2 separate regions of the Homo sapiens genome follow, and region 1 is linked to region 2. A link means that fine-mapping ties the variant in region 2 to the expression of a gene that starts in the linked region. Tissue or cell type: testis. Region 2 holds a variant in brackets; the other region holds the start of a gene. All regions are shown on one strand. Distances are between the middles of the regions.

What was found. PIP is the estimated chance that this variant, and not a neighbour inherited with it, causes the effect.
Region 1: it holds the start of ECT2L, and the variant in region 2 is fine-mapped to the expression of ECT2L in testis (GTEx, PIP 0.97).

The regions. Positions count from the first base shown.
Region 1 is chr6:138,794,503-138,797,186 of GRCh38, forward strand. It overlaps ECT2L (epithelial cell transforming 2 like), which reads left to right and starts at 1,585. Exons shown (of 22, transcript NM_001077706.3): 1 at 1,585-1,690.
Region 2 is chr6:138,429,296-138,431,979 of GRCh38, forward strand. It overlaps NHSL1 (NHS like 1), which reads right to left. Exons shown (of 8, transcript NM_001144060.2): 6 at 1,098-2,684; 7 at 416-548. Among named protein-coding and RNA genes, the nearest start is that of MIR3145, 4.7 kb to the right of the region's middle. RefSeq lists enhancers at 889-1,390, 1,391-1,890. The variant G/C (reference allele first, on the strand shown) is at 1,197.

The DNA.
Region 1 (2,684 bases), 370 kb after region 2:
CTCCTTGTTTCCAGGCCACAGAAATAAGCACCTAATTGGGGGAGGGGAGGAGAGGGACTTACTGAATATTTTTCAAATCTTGATTTTAATAATTTTTGGCTTTCTGAATTCAAAGTATTTTGATCAGTAAATTGGTCTTTTTAATACCCCTTTTAAAAATTACAGCATCATGGAGGAAACTTCATTTGGGTTGTGAGAATAGGGATTTAAGGGGGAAAAAGTCGTACTCTAGGGTCTGACAGGGCGAAAGGACACTTTGTCATGTGACATGTTTTTCTTGGATTGGTCCTGAGATAGAGTAAAGCAAAAAGCTGGTTCCTGCGGGTTGTGACAGAGCAGTGGATTGACCTTGTTTATTCACTTGGTTCATTCGCCCTTTGTGTCACAGGGCCCTAAATGGGTCCCAGGTAGCGAAATATTAGCTTATCTAATTTGTATCCTTTCACACTCCTTAAACACATGTTCAAGGAAACAGGAAAAAATGCAGTGCCTGGATTAGAATAAAATTTAAGGCCTGGTTTGGTGACAGGCACCAGTACTTTTAGCTACTCTGGAGGCTGAGGCGGGAGGATTGCTTGAGCCCAGGAGTTCTAGGCTATAGTGTACAATGATGATTTTACTGGCATACAGATGAAAAAGAAAAAGATATTTGAAATAAAAATAAAAATATAGTGCACAATGACCAGGCCTGTGAATAGCCACTGCACTCCAGCCTAGGCAGCATAGCAAGATCACATTTCTCATATGAAACTTTACTAGAATGAAACTTATGGTTTATTACATAGATGTTGCTTATTCGTTGTAGGAAAAATTGAATTACAGATGATTTTTAAAACTACCAGAGCAAACCATTTAACCTATTTGTGTACATACTCCCAGATTTCTTACACACGTTGCAAAAAAAATAGATCGTACCATTCTGCTGGTTTTCTAAGCTGCTTTTTGTAAGTAATGTACTGTGAGCATCTTTTCATGGCCATAACTATTACATACAAAAGAAAAAAACAGGCTTCACAATAAATAGTTAAAAGACATTTTGACCTGAAACTAATGAAGAAGGGTTTTTTGGTTTTGTTTTTGTACCTCCTGTATAATGCTGAAATTGGTAATTCTGCAGTAAATATTAACATTTTCTGAGGATCTGCTGAAGATGAATGTGACAAAAAATAAGAAACTCCACTTTCCTCATCACACAGCCTTAATTAACATCGCTGGCTTTGTTTGAGATCAAGCAAACGTTGGCTTCAGTGTCCAAGTCTCTTCTTGGGGTCCCACGGCCTTGGGTCTGGCACCTCTGCTGGGCACCTCGCAGGGCTTCCGAGACGTGCCGCGACCCACGGGACCCCACGGAAGCTTTCTCCCACCGCAAGCTCCCTGGAGGCAGGGAAAGGAGCCGGGACCCGAGCCTAGCTGGCCTCAAGAGAAGGGCGGTGGCTCGCACGGCGCGGGCGGCTTTGCTCACTGCAGCTGGGGAGATGCAGGTTGGCCGTCCGGGCGCGGCGGCGGGAGGGGCTGCGGGCCTGTGGGGCGGGGTGGTGGCTCCGTGTTGTTGGATCCCTATGGAGATGACCCTGTCCCTGCCCCACCCCTCTCCGGAGCTGCGGCCCGAGTTGGCGCACTCGATTTTCACTGCGCGGTTCCAAGAGGAGACAGCCGCCACTGTACCGGGCCTCATAGCCACTTCCTAGAGGTAAAGCCCGTGGCTTCTGAGCCGCTAGTCTTTTTCTTGGGGCCGCCCGGGGCACATCGCCTGGGCCGGCTTAGTTTCCCAGTGCAGTCGCCCAGGAAGACCCTAAGCAGCGCTGAGGGGCGCAGGGCCCTCCCTCCGCGACCCTGGAGTCCCTTAGCAGCTCTGGAATTAACCAAGATTCTGAAGAGGCTCTGGGGAGAAACAAAATCCACGCGTAGGGTAGGGTTTGCATCGGGCCATGCCAAGTAAACTCTTACCTCCTCCAGAGAACTGATTTGGGATCGAAGTAAAGTTCTTGAACACTTTGGAAAACGCTGATTTTCATAGGTTCACACCAACTGCCTTCTTCCTTCTGACAGTTCTCTCCCTCTTTCCTCCTATGGGGTCCAAAAATGTAGGGAGTAGGGTGGGGGCTGGGTTGGGGGAATGAGGGAGGAATACAAAAAATCTACTGTGAATATAGGTCTTGGTTATAAGGATAGCTCTAAGAGTTAATATGCTAAGATTTGATGAGCAGGACAAATAAAACAGTGGTACTTTAAAATATCGATTTAAAAATACCGATGCTGTGCTTATTAATAAACTTTGCATATGTATCAGAACACAATATCCTGACATCATTGGTGTTAAAGTTCACTGCAACCCATGCAATTGTATCCAAGCCTGTTAAAGTCTGTTCTGCAGGAACTGACATTTGTGCTCCACAGAAACCTCAAAAATCATGCTCTACAAACACTTATTTCAGTGGGAGGAAGAAGGGTTAAGGACTTGGAAGTTTTATAGCAACAGTTGCATCTTGTTTGTTACAGCTTTAGTTTTATAGCTTTAAACTTATAAATCAGTGAGCACATCCACCATTTGAAAATACCAGCACAAGTATGGTATTTTCTATCACCGCCTGTAAGATCAATAGCCCAGGTTTCCTCAAAACACGCCATTATTTTCATTATCCATTGCTTAGTGTGTACTTAATAAAAATTATATACTGGCATGT
Region 2 (2,684 bases):
ACTAAAACATCTTTAGGAAGAGAGTCCCATGGAGCTAGTCTGTGCATCCTAAGTCCACAGAACATAGCATTCCTCCTCCTGACTGCACTGTCAGTCACTTTAATCCGACTCTTGCTAATATACTCTGTCTTATGACTGCCACACTGCGCTCCTTGCCAGGAAGAGCAGCGCCTACCAGAACGTATCACATTGAGCCACTGTCCCCAATGTCATAAAAATCAGTGAGACAAAGTAAAACAGAAATTGGAGCCAGAGGAAATAAAACTGTAGAAACCCACTAAAAAATCAACAGTAAAGTTAAGGAGTTATGATTGGGTGACAGAAGAAACCTCAAGGAAGAAAAGTAAATTGAGGTGCTGCTTGGAAAGAAGGAATTACACAGTAGATTAAAGTCAGAGGAAGGAGTTTGAAATACCTGTGAATAGCTGCAAAAAGGTCTTCTGTGGTCCTGGGTCGACTGGGGGTCATTACCTCATCATTCCCGTCTTCCTTGAGGAAGTCACAGGCCTCTGAGGATGAACCGGCTGCGTTGGTCTCCGGCACCCCAGCTACAGAAGAGCAGGCAGGCATACAAGACGCACAAGTGACTGGAATTTCAGTCCTCAGCCAAGCTTCTAAATATGCTGCTTCCCTGCCATTCCCGACAATGTGAGAACCACAGGGAGATGCCGTGGGTCTGTAGTTTGATAGTTTACAAAGAAGGGAGGAAATGACACTAGCCTGAGAGCCAGAGCTCATTCTTTGTTAAAGTATGGAACGCCCATGGCATCTCTCTTAAATTTTGTTGCAACGTTTCTTTGCGCGGCTCTTCGGAAGGGAGGTGTTACCCATTGCTATTTAATACCCAGCCTGCTGCAGATCATCTCCATCCCCCTATTTTCTGCCATGCCTTTAGGTCTAGATTTTAAAAATAATAACAAAATGCAAAGTTGGTAACTTAATCTGTGTTTTAACACAGGAAGCCTACATACTGCTAGCTTTAACAGGAATCTGATCTACCTGGGTTCTTTCCACGTGTGAGCATTCAACAACCCTATCTGGTTCAGCTGCATATGGGCAGAGGGCACAGGAGAGAGAAGCCAGGAAGCCAGACTCACCTGCTCCGTCCTGTTGAGATAGGCAGCTCTCCCCATCGCCCCCAGTATCCGCACTGTTCTCGGCTGGCTCCTCCTGCTTGGGGGCTGGTGAGACATCAG[G/C]CTGAACCATGGGGACATTGGCTTCCACTCTGCTGGGAGACATGGATCCTGCAGCTCCTCCCTCAAGAACCGAGGTGCCAGGGTGCGTGGCATGAGAGCCAGCTTGGGCTGCAGAACTCTCTTTTGCCTCCCTGCTGTGCACAGAGCCCTCCTCTCCCGTCGTGGGGCTGGGCACAGCTCGGAGGGCTTCGCTCACGTTCTCTGCGGGCTCCACTGCAAAATCTTTCTGCGGAGGTGGTACCACCAGGAACAGTTTGGGCTTCTTGGAAATGGGGGGTGGCTTCCTGCTGGGTGAAGAGTCTGGGAGTGGGGTGGTGCTGGGGCTGGGCCGAGCCTCTGCCTCCCCAGCGCTTGGAGCTCCAGGGCTGCGGCTCACAGGGCCACCACGCTCAGCCGCACTGCCATGGTCACCCTGACTCGAGCTCTTGGCAGGCGTCGGAAGCGAGCTTGTCACAGAGGCAGGCTGGCTTTCACTCTCCATTTCATTTGTGCTATTTCGGGATTTCAGGAAAGCAGATGGCTTTAAGTGGTACTGTGGAGCAACTGGAGTTCGTTGTTCCTGAGCTGTTCGTTCAGACAACTGTGCCGCCTCAGCGCCTGAGTTCTTTCTCACGGGCCTCAACTGCACCATCTGCAATGCTTCCGTGGTTATCAGGGGCATGGGGGGCCTGCTGGTCTCCTCCTTGGTAGAAGGCGGCCTCAAGGATCCCCGGGAGGATTCTGGCTGGCCAGAATTTGTGAAAGGCGGCCTGGTGTCTTTCATGAATTTGGGGTCAAGAGGTGGGGCAGGTGGGGGTTCCGAGGAAGGTAAGAGAGGTGGGGGCAATGGCAAGGACACAGGTGAATCTGGAAGAATGGGGCTCAGTGCAGGGCGGGGAGGAGAAAGGCACCAATCAGGTGGGGAGCAGAAAGGAATGAGAGCTTCTGGCGGCGGAGGGGGGAACACAGGAGAGTGAGGCAGAGGAGAGCCCTGGGAGCAATCTGTGACAGGAGGTGGGGGAGGAAGGAAAGGAGACCTGTCTGCAGGACAAGGGAATGGAGGAGAGGGAACAGGAGGAGGAGGAGGAGCCGGGGGAGAGCCCACGGCTGGATCCAGCTTCTTCATAGTGCCACTTCCTTCAGTAGAAGTACTAGAAGAAAGAGAAGTGGACGATGAGGAAATGGATACTGAAGATATCAGAGAGGACTTCCTTTCTGGTACCTTGGGCTTGGGCTTCCCCTTCCCGTTTGCTGGTGACACTGATTTTAAAAACACAGGCACAGGGGTGAGTGCTGTGGGTGTATTCGACTGGCTGGAATACCCACTGGATGGAGAAATGACTCTGTGTGACTTCTCTGGTGACATGATCTTTGGTTTGACTGAACCACCGGGCACTTGGGGCATTGTGGCTCTGGACCCTTCTTGGACATGGCGGACTGGCCCGTTCCCAGTGGGCACCCCACTGCTGGTTGAACAGCCCCCTGCCGGGTTCCCCGGATCTTCCTGCA